Linked DNA regions of Homo sapiens. The protein of the gene in region 1 purifies or fractionates together with the protein of each later gene. This does not show direct contact. Each region holds a gene or a part of one and is shown in the gene's direction. Other genes may lie near its edges. The genes, in order: CIMAP1C and CARNMT1.

What was found.
Region 2: the proteins of CIMAP1C (region 1) and CARNMT1 purify together in Homo sapiens (affinity purification with mass spectrometry; 3 studies listed by BioGRID and IntAct, with this or other methods). This does not show direct contact.

The regions. Positions count from the first base shown.
Region 1 is NC_000015.10:75,718,891-75,727,290, forward strand, and holds the start of CIMAP1C (protein CIMAP1C), read left to right. Parts: upstream 1-5,150; 5' UTR 5,151-5,309; coding exon 5,310-5,427; intron 5,428-6,217; coding exon 6,218-6,328; coding exon of another isoform or gene 6,329-6,379; intron 6,380-7,167; coding exon 7,168-7,281; intron 7,282-8,168; coding exon 8,169-8,400.
Region 2 is NC_000009.12:74,997,173-75,004,708, reverse strand, and holds part of CARNMT1 (carnosine N-methyltransferase), read left to right. Parts: exon of another isoform or gene 1-4,832; intron 4,833-4,838; coding exon 4,839-4,979; intron 4,980-5,932; coding exon 5,933-6,111; intron 6,112-7,326; exon of another isoform or gene 7,327-7,389; coding exon of another isoform or gene 7,390-7,454; exon of another isoform or gene 7,455-7,536.

The DNA.
Region 1 (8,400 bases):
AAGGAAATCTTGGGGCATGTTGATTTCAAGGTGCTTGTGAGAAACCCAGGTGACACTGTGCAGGCGGCTGTATATGTGAGCCTAATGCTCCTAAGAAGGTCTAGTCAGGGGAAGTTTTACTTCCGGATTGCTGGGGTATCGATAAGGGAATTAAAGCAACCAGAGGAGATGAGGCTGCCCGGGAGAGAGGAGCGCGGTGCAAAATGGGAGGAAGACCCAGCACTGAGCCCTGAGACACCAACGTCTCTTCCTTAAAATGTTTATTTTGACATAATTTCAGACTTAGATAAAAGTGGCAAGATGATTACAAATGTTTCCCACATACTCCACCTAGATTTCCCAAATGTTAATTGTTTACCACATTTTAAATTCTTTTCTCTCTCTCTCTCTTTTTTTTTTTTTAGATGGAGTCTCACTGTTTCCAGGCTGGAGTACAGTGGTGCATTCTCAGCTCACTGCAACCTCTGCCTCCCAGGTTCAAGCGATTCTCCTGCCTCAGCTTCCCGAGTAGCTGGGACCACAGGCACGTGCCACCAAGCCCAGCTAATTTTTTGTATTTTTTTTTTTTTTTTTTTTTTTTTTTGGAGATGGAGTGTTGCTCTGTCGCCCAGGCTTGAGTACAGTGCAGTGGCCCCATCTTGGCTCACTGCAAGCTCCGCCTCCTGGGTTCACGCCATTCTCTTGCCTCAGCCTCCCGAGTAGCTGGGACTACAGGCGCCCGCCACCACGCCCGGCTAATTTTTTTTTTTTTTTTGTATTTTTAGTAGAGACAGGGTTTCACCTTGTTAGCCAGGATGGTCTCGATCTCCTGACCTTGTGATCCGCCTGCCTTGGCCTCCCAAAGTGCTGGGATTACAGGCGTGAGCCACCGCACCTGGCCAATTTTTTGTATTTTTAGCAGAGATGGGGTTTTACTGTGTTAGCCAGGGTGGTCTCTATCTCCTGACCTCGTAATTTGCCCGCCTCGGCCTCCCAAAGTGCTGGGATTACAAGCATGAGCCACCACACCCGGCCATCTCTCTCTCTATTTTTCTGAACCATTTGAAAGTAAGTTGCAGACATAATGCTCCTTTATTCCTAAATATTTCAGTGAGTTTTTCCTCTTTTTTAATTTTTTTTTTAAAATGAGACAGGGTCTCGCTCTGCTGCCCAGGCTGGACTGCAGTGGTGCCATCAGAGCTCACCACACCATCAAACTTCTGGACTCAAGGGAGCTTCCTGCTTGAGTAGATGGGATTACAGGCACACACCACCGTGCCTGGCTATTTTTTTTTTTCTTTTTTGGTAGTGACAGGGTCCCACTGTGTTGTCCAGGCTGGTCTCGATCTCCTGGGCTCAAGCAGTATTTCCTAGAACAGGACCTTCTCTTTCATAACTGGAGTGCAATGATCAAAACCAGGAAATTAACATTGGTACAATACTTTGAACTAAGCCATAGACTTTTTTCTCCCCAGCTTTGCCAATTTTCCCAAAAATATCCTTTATAACAAAAGAAAACCTCGGCTTTCTTCTGAGTGTCTATTCATCTTGCATGGTTCTTCAGCGTTTCATTGTCTTCCATGATGTTGCCATTTTTGACAAGTACAGGCCAGTTCTTTTAGGTGAATTTTGGTTTGAGTTTGTCTGTTTTCCTCATGATTAAATTCAGGTTCTGTATTGTGGCAGGAATGCCTAGGAAGTGATGCCGTGCCCTTCTCACGCAGCCTATCAAAAGACACATAACTGGCTGGGCGTGGTGGCTTACACCTGCAATCCCAGCGCTTTGGGAGGCCAAGGAGGGCAGATTACTTGAGGTCAGGAGTTCGAGACCAGCCTGGCCAACATGGTGAAACCCTGCCTCTCCTAAAAATACAAAAATTAGCTGGGCATGGTAGCAGGCTCCCCTAATCCCAGTTATTCAGGAGGCTGAGGCAGGAGAATTGCTTGAACCCAGGAGGCAGAGGTCATAGTGAGCTGAGATCACGCCACTGCACTCTAGCCTGGGTGACAGAGCAAAAGACTCTGTCTCCCCCAAAAATCCCCCACAAAAAAACCAAACAAACAAAACCAAGAGGCACACATCTATTGTGCAATCATTGGGATGTTGACTCGTATCACTTGGTTGAGGTGATGCCTGCCAGGCCTCTCTTCTATAAAGTTACTGTTTCCCCTTTGCAATGAATAAGCATACGCCAACATTGAAAGGTCAGGTTGAGGAAGGAAGGAAGCCAGGAAGAAAGCCAGTGCAGGGGCAGCCGAGAGACAGAAGGAAAGAAGGAGGGCGTCCTGGAGCCAGCAGGAGGGGCAGCATGAGTGAGGCAGGGCTGGCATTTATTGCATTAGAGGATGAAGAGTGTCCCTTGGAAGCAGCTGCCACCTGCAGGTGGCGGGCGTCGAGTTAAGCCTCTTTCGGGTGGAGCAGTGGGCCTGGAGCCAACTCAGGCTGAGTCAAGTGTGAGAGGGAGGTGAGAATGGAGATGACTGGAAAACACCTCTGTGGGGAAGGTGGTCTGTGGGCTGGGCAGAGAGGGACAGGCAGTGACGGAGAAGCATGTGGGCTTGGGGGACAGTTTGAATAGATAGAGGGGACTTAGGATATCTAGAGTGTGACAGGAGGGAGCCAGATGAGAGGCGCAAGTCCAAGGAGAGGGGTGCAATCCACAGTGTCCCAGGCGGGACGTGGGAGCCGATGACAAAAGACATGGCGGTTCTGAGGCTGTGATGGGGGGTACTCGTCAGAGCCCAGCCTGATGGGGCAGGTGGATGGGGGGGCCGGAAGGATGGCCAGGCGAACAGAGGAGAGTGAGCCATGCAGGGGATGATCCCTGGGGGTGGGGGAGAGGGGGAGGGCAGGCTGCCCAGAGGTGGGGGTGGGTGGCAGGTGGCGAGGAGGGCAGGTCCAAGGTTCTGGCCATGAGACTGTCCTGACAGCTTTAGCTGCCTGATGCAGATGGACAACGCAGACCTGGGGGACGCAGTGCTGGGATGTTCCAGGAAAGGGGCTGGATGAGGAGGGTGGTGAAAGCTGGAGGGGCCTGAAGGATGACGCAGAAGTGCAGGGAGTGCAGGGTCAGCACTGGGGTCTCAGAGATGGGGGGCAGGGGATGGCCTCCCAGAGAGACTGGCTGTCAGTGCTGTGGGAGGTGGTGAGAAGCCCAGGATTGCAGTGGGGGACCGGCCTGTGAGGGAGTGGAGTGGAGGTGTTTGCACATGAGGAGGTCTGGGAACGGGGAGGCCAGGGCATTGGTGGTGGTCCCTGGGGAGGCCTGAGCTATCAGGGTCATGGCAGGAGTTGGGGTGGGGTGGAGGTGGCCTCGAGCCACGGCTGCTAGGTTTATGAGTAGGGACCCAGGGCAGCCCTGAGGAGCTGAAGGGGGACACACCTGGATGCCAGTGCCCCAGAGGAATGGGGCATTTGATGGGGAGGGCACAGTCTGGGGACCAAGGCAGCCAGAGACCCACGGCACTGTGGACTCTGAGGCATGAGGGATGTGAATGTCGGAGCAGCCAGCTTTGGACAGGGCCGAGGGCCACCTCCAGGGGTGAGCTGGGTCTCCATCAGAGCTGGAGGAAAGGAAGCATTTGGAACAAATTGGAGTGGCTTGTGACCTGCTGGGGTGCGGGGTGGCCTAGTTTCCTGAAGAGCTGTGCACCAGGATGATGGGGCAGAAGCAGTGAGGGAGGAAGGCAGGAGGCTCCCCGGGCCTGAAATACTTGGAGACTGCCCGCTCACCAGGAAGGTGGGGGTCCCAGCCCCAGATCCGGCCCCTCTCAGCACTGGGATACCATCAGGGCTCGCAGCTTCCTACAGGAAAAGCTGACGCGGATGGGGCTGAGGACATAGCATTGGCCCTGGCCTGAGGCCAGTGAGGCTGGGTCACCCCCCAGCCTGGCTCAGCCCTCCCTTACCCAGAAATCAGAGGTTTACTTGCCCCATGGGCATATGGGGGCACACAGGGTCTGCTGCTGGGGGGACTGGGCCCCTGTCCTCTGTTCTGAGGCCTGTGGTCCCTCAGGGGCTTCTGGACACCCTGCATGCCTGTCCTACCTGCTGCTCTGAGCCCTCGCTGTGCCTGCTGACTGGAATGCGTTCAGAGCATGGCTTGGTTTCTATTCAATCAGAGACTATGATCCAAGGAGAGCCCTGGGTTTTGTGTCCTGGTTCCATCTCTGCTATTTTGATGTAGTAGGAGACTTTGGGCAAGTCCTTGTTCCTTTCCGGGCCTCAGTTTTCTTAACTGTGTACTGGGGTGGTGACAGACACCCCTGTCTAAAGCCAGCAGTCATCTGGTTCCTGAGATGGACACCGCTGACCCGGTTCAGGTCAAATCCCTAGTCTGTTACGAACAGTGGAGGTGACAGGCCCCAGGCCCCCAAAAGCCTCCTGGGTTCTTAGGAATGAAGAGGTTCCCAGCATGTTTTCAGGCCTGGGGCTCATCCATCCGTCAGATGGGGCTGGCTGCCTTCCCTCCCCTTCTATGTGTCCTCTCATACCGCCCTCCAACTCCAACTGCTCCCCTGCCAAGGGAGTGCTCTTGGTCACAGGCACAGGAAGCAGCCCCTTGAAGGCTCAGCACCACCCCTCTGTCCTCCTTTATTTGCTTCCCACTCCTTTTTGTATCCATTGAGCTAGACATGGATCTCTAAAGATACCACACCCTGGGATAGGATTCTGGGGAGGAGCTATCAGACAGTCACACCTTAGTGATAATTGACTTGATATTTTGCCAGGGGAAAAATAGACTTGACAGAAGAGAGGGCATGTCCAGAGCCTGGGAGGTAGGTGGGAGAGGCAGGGGGTAGAGAGCCCCCAGGGGGCTGTGTGTGCTGCACAAACCCTTCACCCGTGACCCACCAACCCTTTCCATTCCTTTCCCCAACCTTAGGGCACCCACTGGGAGTGAAGCGCTAGCTGATACGTAACACCATCTCTCCATTTCCCTTCCCTGACCCAGGGTCCTGGGGACCCCCAGGCCACTTGGCCTGGTTGGTGATGGGGGACAGTGGGATAGTCAGGGTTCCATAACTAAGCTCCCAGCATAGAATTTCCACGCCGCAGTTCAGGCGCCATGGCAACCAGGGGAAATAAACACTACGAGTTTCACAGTCCAAGCTCTGCCGTGACGTCATCTCCAGCTCCAGCCTGCTGGGGCCTGTGCTGACTGTGCCCCAGACAGCCTTAGCTGCTCAAGCTGGAGAACTGTCTTCCTTCCCAGCTTCCTCCGTGTCTGGGGTGGGGGATGGGGGGGTCTCAGGCAGGGATACTCTAGCCCCTTGACTGCTGTTTAGACCCTGCTGTAGCTGCTGCTGCTCCCTGCCCAGCCCCAGCCATGAAACTGCCCAAGGGGACCAGGAGCTCTGTGTACTTTGCACAGCACCCAGAAAAGGAGCCATTGCCCTCAAGGCAGGAGGTCAAGCAGACCCCTGTCATCATGGCCAAGATCAAAGGTGAGAGCCATCCCCACCCTGGGCTTGGGCCCCCTCCCCTCTCTCCAGGACTCCTTCCAGCCTGCCTCCTGCAAAGCCCCTTCCAACTTCCTTGAAGCCTTACAGAAGACCTGAGCCTCCAAGCTGACCCTCACAGGCAGTGTTGGCTGCTGGGATTGTCCAAGTGGGTGGGGGAGGAGGGGAGCATGGGACTTGCAGTGAGGCCCGCTTTGGAAAAAGACTAGGAGCCTTTGTCCTAGCTTTAGCTTTCCTCACTTCCCTTCAATTTTACTCTCAAGGGACAGCAGACGCTAATTCTTACTATGTTGGTAATGACTGACTAGTGCTCTAAGTGGGAGTAGTTTAGTGCAGGGATTGAAGGTTTGGGTTCTACTGGATGATGGTCTTAGAATCTTCACACTACTAGTTTGTGATATGTGGGTAGATATTTCTAAGCCTCAATATTCTGTAAAATGGGAAAAACAAGAGCATTTACCTTACAGCATTGTTCAGAGGCTTAACGGAAATAATCCACGTCGGATGCCTAGTGGAGAACCTGGAGCAGAATAAGTTCTCAATTAACTGTAACTATTAGCTTCTTATTATGCATTGTCTGTCCAAGGGAAACTGCATTTTATCTGGAAATACTGCCTTCCCCCAAACGAAGCAGCTGGATGGATGCTGGGCTCGTGGCAGTGCGATAGCAGCAAGAACAAATACCCCCAATGTTCCCATGGTGCGCTGTACTGGGGCTTCCCCTGCCTCTGACCTGGTGGGCCCAGGCTGAGGGCTGTCCTGTCCATCCTTACAGGTCCGGGGCCCGCCAAGTACCTCCGGCCATCCTGCACGGGCTACATAGATCATGACATCTCCATGTTCAAGGCACCAGCTTATACCCTGCATAGCCGGCACTCAGAGAAGCGTGAGCGTTGCCACCCCAGTCATCCGGCTGGGGTTGGAGCTGTTGTTGGAGGTTGAGGGGAGAGACATGGAGCCATTCTCTGTAGCCACTGGGAATCTGAGACACTCAAGGGGCCCCCTGGGTCCAGAGGAAGCCAGCGGGGATTGAGGGTGGGGCAACTCCATGGGCATCCCCTAGCCGCCTCTCCCAAGGGAGCCTATAGGGGATCCTGGCCCTGTCCAGCTGGCACAGCAGAGTCTCCTTTTTCTGGCCTTTGGCTGGGGCCCTTCAGCTCCGGTCGCCATGCTCTGCTAGGGTCACTTGCCATTGTGGCCAGGCAGGAACAGCTAGGAGGCCAGTGGGGAAGTGGTGGCCCCCAGAGCTCCTCAGGTGGCCTAGAACCCACTGGAAGGGCAGAAGCAGAGGCCACAGATGACCTATGCTGCTGGGCAGGGTGTGGTGGCGTGCACCCGGGGGTCTGAGATCTGGGGTGCCTGTCAGGCCTTTCCCTGGGGAGAATACCCACCTCAGCAAGGTAAGCCCCTGGCCTGGCTGGGCCTTTGCTGAATGCCCACAGCAGCCACAGGGCTATTACTCCCCGTTGGCCCCAACCCCTGATTGGGTGGGTGGCTGCCCAAGCTGCTGGGCAGCTGTTATTTTACTGTTCCTCTGAGCAAGTTCTTGAAAATACCAGGTCATGTGTTAAAAGTCCCATTTTACAGATGAGGAAATCAAGGGTCCCCAAACACCCAGGAGCCACAGAATCTGAAGTGGGAGGGAGATCTTGCCTGGAGGCAGGCCAGGTGCTCAGTGGGGCAGCCTTTGGGGCTGACCAGGCCCTCTCCTTGGTTGCCCTGCAGGGATGGTGTGCCACAGCAGCCCTGGGCCTTGCTATCTCTTGGATCCCAAAATAACTCGGTTTGGAATGTCCAGCTGCCCGCAGGTCCCCATGGAGGAGCGCATCTCCAACCTGCGTAAGATGGGGTTATGGACAGATGTTGGGGGTTGGGAGGTTGGGGGGTGGGGTGCACCCTTAGGACCTGGGCAGGGGCAAAGGGTCAAGACTTCCTCCTTGGAAATGTCTGGATGCCGGTATCTCCCTGCAAGACACCGACATTGCAATGCTGACATCACCATGTCTTGAAGTCAATGTTATGACATGCAGCATGTCACCAGGTGACGTTATGATGACATGGAGCTCCTGTTGTGGATGCAATATTGTCATGCGAACGAGCTCACAGACTGTAGTGATCTCAGAATGTTTCTGTGTCGCTGTCAGAGGGACAATGTCTGGATGCTGACACTGTAGCAACTGGGGGTAATCCAAGGGGAATGTTATGATGACATTATGGTTTTTTACATGATGACCACTGTGTTGCCATCCTGATGTCAGGATGGCCTAAGTGACCATCTTATTTATTTATTATTTATTTATTTAGATCGAGTCTCGCTCTGTTGCCCAGGCTGGAGTGCAGTGGCGTGATCTCGGCTCACTGCAACCTCCACCTCCTGGGTTGGAGTGATTCTCCTGCCTCAGCCTTCTGAATAGCTGGGATTACAGGTGCACGCCACCACGCCCAGCTAATTTTTGTATTTTTAGTAGAGATGGGGTTTCACCATGTTGGTCAGGCTGGTCTCGAACTCCTGATCTTGTGATCTGCCTGCCTTAGCCTCCCAAAGTGCTGGGATTGCAGGTGTGAGCCACCGCGTCCGGCCTAAGTGACCATTTGGATGTCCCTGCCCTGCTGCTGAGGTGGTCAGCCTGAGGTCACAGTGGATAACCAGGACCATCAGTTGGCTAGCAGAGAATGAGGTCTGTTCCCTGCTCTGAGAGCCCTCCCTTCCCGCCACTCCCTTTCAGGCCTGAACCCCACCCTCGCATCCTGCCAGTACTACTTTGAGAAGATCCACCCACCGGGGGAACGCAGGGCTCCCCAGTACACGTTTGGCTACCGGCGCCCATACAGAGTGATGGACCTCAACCCGGCTCCCAACCAGTACCAGATGCCACTCTTGCTGGGGCCCAACACCCCTGTCAGCCGAGCTGCTCCCTGCTACAGTCTGGCCTCCAGGGACAAGAACTGGTTCTACAA
Region 2 (7,536 bases), on another chromosome or scaffold:
TAACGAAGCATTTTTTTTCCACTTAAGATAAAATAAATAATGTAAATTATAGTTCATGAAAAGATTCTTTTAGCTAGGAGAACTCATTTTTAAAAAGAAAATGGAGGAAATTGGAGAAAATGTAGACTGCCAAATAGTGCAGGTGGTAGTTCAGAGACTAAAGATAGATTTCTCCCTCATCCTGAGACCAAAGACAGGTATGTGTTTCATATTTCTTTCAAGTCAAGATTTCAAGTGCTTACAGATCTAGAAGAATAACACAGTAGAAAAACCACTCAGCATTCATAACCCAGTAGACAAATCCTGTAAATAGATCACAGAAAAAGAAATACAGGACACTCAATCTCATAGGGAAATGCAAATGTAAAAACCACGTTAAGATGCCATTTTTTACTTATTTTATTGCAAAGATTTAAAAGATAACTATTAGTGCAGGTGTGAGGAAACATAAATATGTTGCTGGTGGAAGAATAAATTAGCAAAAAATTATGTAGAACAATGTGGCTTATTTGTCAAAATTCAAATGCATATCTTGGCCAGGCGCCGTGGCTCACGCCTGTAATCCCAACACTTTGGGAGGCTGAAGTAGGTGGATCACCTGAGGTCAGGAGTTCAAGACCAGCCTTGCTAACATGGTGAAACCTGTCTCTACTAAAAATACAAAAATTAGCTGGGTGTGGTGGCACGGGCCTGTAGTCCCAGCAATTTGGGAGGCTGAGGCAGGAGAATTGCTTTAACCCTGGAGGCGGAGGTTGCAGTGAGTCAAGATTGTGCCACTGCACTCTAGCCTGGGCGACAGAGCGAGACTCCGTCTCATAGCAAAACAGAACAAAACAAAACAAAAAACAAATGCATATCTTGATTCTTGAAGTTCAATTTAAGGGAAGCTGTTCTACATATATATTTCTGCATGTGAAAGTTATTTATGCCACTACATTAGTGTAGTGTGGGAAGTAAAATTTTTCAAAATAAAAAGTTATTCATGCTAAGGGTATTCGTTTTAACATTATGATAGTGAAAGATTGGAAACAATATAAATATCCTTAATTAGGAGATTTTGATAAATTATGTTACAGTCATGCAGTGAGTTAAGGAAGCTCTGTGTACTGCTGTGAAGGAGATTCAGGGGTATTGTATTAGATCAGGGGTTGGCAAATGTTTTCTTGAAGTGCCAAACAGTAAATGTGTTAGGCTTTGCCGGCAATGTCGTCTCTGTTGAGACTGCTTAGCGCCTTGTTGCAGGAATGCAGCCATAAACAATTCTTAGATGAGTGAGTATGGCTGCGTTTTAGTAAAACTTCATTTACAATGACAGGTGACTGGCCTGCAAGCCATAGTTGCTGTACCTGTGTTAAGTGAATGACGCGAAGTGAAGAACCTTGGTATGTAAACTATAATAGAACTGTGAATGAATTATTGAAAGCATAGAGAAGAGAGTTCAGGGAACTTTGCCTGGGATATTTAGGAAATATAGATGAAGTGATAATTTATAATAATAAGGTAATTGAGTTTCTGTGGGTAAGAGCTCTAAAGAAAGTCTTCTGGGATCAGTGAGAAGTTGTCTGGCTGAAATAAAGAGTTCTTTGTTGGGAGTTGATGAAGAGGTAAGTTAGGAGATGCTAAACACTCCTGATTTATAGTCAATTTTCTATGATGAATAAAAAAATTTTTGGCTGGGTGTGGTGGCTCATGCCTGTAATCCCAGCACTTTGGGAGGCCAAGGTGGGTAGGTTACTTGAGCCCAGGAGTTCAAGACCAGCCTGGGCAACACGGCGAAACCCCATCTCTAAAAATAAAAAAATTAGCTGAGCATGGTGGCACACACCTGTAGTCCCAGCCACTTGGGAGGCTGAGGCAGGAGGATCGTCTGAGCCTGAGAGGCAGAGGTTGCAGTGACCTGAGATGGCACTATTGCACTCCAGCCTGGGCAACAGAGCAAGACTGTCTCAAATTTAAAAAAAAGAAATTCAATACTAGCTCTGTTAAACCTTGACATTTTGCCATATTTGCTTTAGATCTCTTTTTCATATTAAAAAAAAATTTTTTTTGACTGCCTCTGCAGAGCAGGGCTATGCCACAGGCAGTGTGCTCAGGGCAGCCATATTTTTTAAAAGAAGCAATTTTATTTTTATTTTGAAAATTTCAATGTAATAAAAGATTATTAATGAGATGTTTTTCATTCCTTTTTGTACTGTCTTTAAATTTGGTGTTCATTTTACACTTACAGCACGTCTCAATTTGCAATAGCCACATTTTAAGTGTTCAGTAGCCACATGTAGTTAGTGGCTTTTACTGTACTGTACTATGATTCAAAGAGAACCACTGTAGGTACTTAAAAGTTGTATTTACTTCTACCACTAGGGGTCAGCCAAGTGTCATAATGACCCAACAAGACAGCATTTTGTGTTGGAGTTTTAAAATTTACAACTGCAGTGCAAAGATCGTTCTGTGTGTAACAAAGGAAACCTCTGTCAAGAGTAATGTTTACTGCTGGTGAAAAAGCTGGAGCAGAAAGGTTGATGGAAGTGTGATCTATGGCCTCTTTAGACACATGGACTCTGTCCTTACAGATGTATCCCTTCTCCGTTCCTGTTTGTCTTGAATAAACTGTTGAAACTTTTCCTCCTGTTATTAGGGAGGTCACATTGTAGTAAATGTACTACTGCTTCTCCACATTTGGGCCTTATTAACTAGGTAAACTTGTTGGCTTGCTTGTTTTCACTAAGAATCTCAAGTAGGCACCATTTGATTACTGAGCCACATATTGTATGCCTTTCTATTCTGGCTTTAAAAAAAAAATTCAGCCTGGTTTAAGGTTGTCTCACCATTAAGGTCTGTATTAGATTTGTGTTTCTTTTTCTCCACAGAAATGACCTCATAGAAATGCCCTAGACTTCATACGGATTCATAGCAGAAATTCCCACTTAGAGTGCGTTAGTTTCATGCACATCACAGTTAGAGGAACTTTTCATTATGCTGTTAATATCCCTTGTGTAAAGACCAAATGAAGAAAATCTAGCTAAGAACAAAGATTTAGGGAAAAATTTTCTCCATCTTACCCATTCATTGCATAGTTCCTGATCATTTTTTCAGTTCTAGAGGGTTTGTTTTAATGCATTTCTTACATGTCCACTTCCTCTTTGTCATAATGCCAGTAATTTACATCTATATTAGTGTCTGTTAACTCTTAAGATAGGACTTTGATATATTCTTCATTCTGTGACTTGATGGGTAGCCTTTCAATAGCAGTTTTAATACAAGGTACTGTTAATATATTTTCTGCCATTAGGTTGAGGTGGAGAGTTCTATGGTTCTGTTTAGTTAAGGAGAATTTGATAAAAGCAGTCATTAAGTTAACTTTCTGTAAGTTAGCAAAATAATTGTTGTTAACATTATGTCACAGCTTTCCCTTCAGGGTAGCATAATTTCTAACTCCTGCATGGTAATATTTTACTGGGGTCATCAGCCATTTGGAAATTGATTGCTGGTTATTTTTATATAAAGATTTAAATACTATATGAATTTACTTCCAAATCCTTTTGCTTTCTGTTGCATGAGTTTGATCAGATAATTAAAAAAAAAATTCTAAACTGAGAACAGCCACTTGCTGGGGTAAGGGTAGAAATGCATGTTATGATTGGACAGATGGGAACTGAGAAAAGAAAGGTAATTCTCCAGAGTAGGGGTTTCGGTGGGTCTGGTAGGGAGTGAGAAATGAGAGAGCGTTAGGTCTGAGTAGGATGCCATCATGGCAGTTCCCTTATATAAGGAATAGCACAGAGTCCTAGAGCTATGAGTTTTCAAAAGCCCCATAGTGTTCTTTCTTATTTTGAAGTGGGACATGCAAAGGTTATATGGGCTACTAGTAAAGTGCCCTGTTGCTGCTTGGAGCATGCCAAACTTAAAGGCCACATAGTTAAAGATAAAAAAATCATTAGTAGGAGTAGATTTGGAAATTGGATTTGATTTGTGAACCAAATTTAGGAAATACAGTAGTGAAGTTTCTTTTTACTTCCTGACATGATATTAGCTGATTGTATACATTTTCCTTTGGCTTCTTATAAGACTACAATTTTAGTTTCCTCGGGATTATATTGATTTGCCAAAATTCCTGAGAAAAAGCCTTGTTTTGGTAAAACTTTTAGTGGTTTGAAAGTGGAATGATGGATCTTACGTGAAGGAAATATGTAATGGCAGTGTGGTGCTAGTAGGTAGAGATCAGTTTGGTTGTGAACCTCTGGTTTGGTGTAATATATTTGTTATCATGTATGTTTAATTAGAGGGCCGTTTCCCATTTTCCCCATGAAAATATCCCCTCCCCCAAATTCTTCTGTCAACTAAAATATATAGGGATTTAGAGATATACCTGACACATTAAACTCTACATCTGTTTAATCTAACATAAACAATTGAGTTACATATAAAATTTAGAAATAAAGTTATGTTGTATTTATTGTCCCATATGATGAAGTACTTTTGTTCAAACTCTTCATATTTAATTGGGATCCCTTTGGAATAATTTGTCTTTCTAAGATAGTTGTTCAGGGTGACAGCTATTAGGAATATGAGTGACTTTATAAGTCTTGAGATGTAAGGGGACTCCTTTTTTCTGAAAAATAATTTTTGAGGGGTAAAACCCTCATCTGATATCGGAACATACATAATAATTCCTTATACCTTTTATTTTTGATATTTAGAAGTATTTCTTGATTGTGAGAAGTCAGAGTCTTAGCTTATTCTTATTGAGTAAATGAGTAAGTTTTTAGTTGTTAATGTGGATTTTGTCTTTTCCTTTTTTTCTTTGAGGGGTTGGACATAATTGCCTTATTTCATTTCAGGGATCCTTCTAAAGTAAATATTCTGGTACCTGGTGCTGGACTAGGAAGACTGGCCTGGGAAATAGCTATGCTAGGTTATGCTTGTCAAGGAAATGAATGGAGTTTTTTTATGCTCTTTTCTTCCAACTTTGTACTCAACAGGTATTTAATTTATTTTTTGCTGGAAATAGTAATTTCTCAGAATCAGATTGACTTACCTATTTTCTTGAACAATTTTGAATTTGAAGATAAGTACATAGCATTTGATTATTATATATATCACAAATGTGTCTTATGTTAAAATCAAAGTACTTACACAAATTATCACTTGAACCAATTGCCTAGTTATTAGAGTGTTGAAACAAGATGGGTAAGTGACTTTATAGAAAGTGACTGGGCATTCCATGAAATGATTTCTGTACAAAATCTTCAGGACTAAGTATGAACCAGGAAGGAGTATTTCTAAATTTATTCCTTAAGCTTCTTTACTTCCTTGTTTCTTTAGTTAAATAAGAGTTTAGTTTAGCAATTATAACTTTTTCTCCTTAATCAAGTTCTTATAAAATGGCCAAGTATGCTCTCATGACTGAGTTGGAAAGATCTCTCAGAACTTCTGTGGCCTCTTTTGGAAGGCAGTGGAAAACAATTGTTATTTTTAAAGCCAGAAGATGTACATTGAGTAGCTGCCTTGTTTAAATAATATGTTGTCTCGGATGGCAGTATGAGTTTTAGGGGATTGGTGAAAAAGGGAAAAAAGAAGAGGGTTATACAAAAAATAGCAAACTGTTTTAGTTGAAACCAGTACCATTTTAAAAAACCTCGTTGGACTGTTATTACTTGGTTTTGAAGTTTAGAAATACATTTTTAAAAATCTGAATGAACAGCACATTTATATCTCTGAATTTACTTTTTTTTTCTGTCTTTAATCCATTGATTGGTTGCTCATCTACATGTATATGTACATTTTCAGATAATTAGGGAAGCTGTAATAGTGACTCTTTAAATATTAATTATATATGCAAATCTTCAATTAAACAGTATATTTTTAGTATTTAAAGTGGATTTTCTTGGTAAAATATTTAGTTAACACCTGATTTTATACTCATATTTTGCAGATGTTCTGAAATTAATAAATATAAACTTTATCCTTGGATCCATCAGTTTAGCAATAACCGGAGATCAGCTGATCAGATTCGACCCATCTTTTTCCCTGATGTTGACCCCCACAGTCTTCCTCCTGGTTCTAACTTTTCTATGACAGCAGGAGATTTTCAAGAGATTTATTCAGAATGCAGTAAGTCCAAATCAAGCGTTTAAAAAGTCTTGTCCTTTATTCTAAATTTAATGAGCTAGTTTTATCCTAAGCCAAGGTTTAGATCATTCATTTTGATGGTAGAACATAAGGCATATGTCAGTGTCAATTTAGAATGTTTTCAAGGTCGTGTACAAGGCAGTGATAGGAAATAAGAAGTGTAAGATATCTACAGTCAAGAAATTTAGAATCTGTTGGGCCCATTAATACTAAGAGATACCATGTAAACAAAGGTTAAATGAGTAATGAATACCAAAAAAATGAAAGGTTATTAGTGTAAGAAGGAAGCTGTTCATAGTGAGGCTATGACTTGAAGGTTGAGAGAATAGCATTTGAGGCAGACAGAAGTACAAAGATATGAACAAGGTGATTGGGGATGGCAGCACAGCTGTACTGGCAGGGAAAGAAAAGATTTAATGGGAGATTTAATGAGATTTAATAGGAGCTATTGCTAGAAAAGTGAATTTGTTCCAGATCATGGAGGACTTGTATAGTCAGGCTGCACAGTTGACTTCAGCCTGGCAAACTGTTGAAGAAATCTGAGCTAGGCAGGAGAGAAAGGGAGATGGTAATAGGGAAAGTGGAGAGGGAGATTGGCACTAAAAGGAAAGCAAAATAGAATACCGAGGGTTCAGCAAGATCATTGAGTCAATAGGTATTTGTTGAGCACCTACTAAGTACTAGGTATTTTTCTAGGTGTCAAAAGAGAACAGTGAACAAAACAAAATCCCTGTCCACAGAGAACTTCCAATAGAGAAAGTGAGGCAATAACAAATACAATATTGTAAGGAAGAAAAAATAAGGCAGGGAAGACGGGTTACAGAGTGACTGGGGAGAGGCTGCTGCTTTATATAGAGTTGTCAGGGAAAGCCTTTCTAAGAGTAGAAACTAAAAAAAAAAAATGTCTAGTAGAGAACCTTGAAAGAGTACACAGACAAACCACTGAGATATTTGAAGGCAAAATTTTGCAGATGGGGAATGGCAAGGGAAGAGGATCAGGGAGTAGAGTGAGTGCTTGCTCTGCTCAAGGAGGAGCTAGGCTGTAGTAAGCAATGGGTACAGTGGTGAGAGGTCAGCCTCGAGAGGGTTTGATGAGGCAAACTTGTTGGCAGGCCATAGCAAGGACTTGGAATTGTACTCAGAGAAACAGGAAGCCATTGGAGGGCTTAAAGCAGGGATAGCAACAACATAGATTGTTTTTATTTATTTATTTATTTTACAACATAGAAAGTTTTTGTTTATTTTTCTCTGAACTCTGAGACTGGGACAACCTGTACTCTGAAGGAAGAAAGGGAGAGATGGAAGATGTTAGGTGTTGTGGATAAGGAATGAAATAATGGAAAACATCACTTAGGCAAGTAAAAGTCCCCTTTTTCTGGAGCAAGGTTTGAGAGAACAGATGATGAA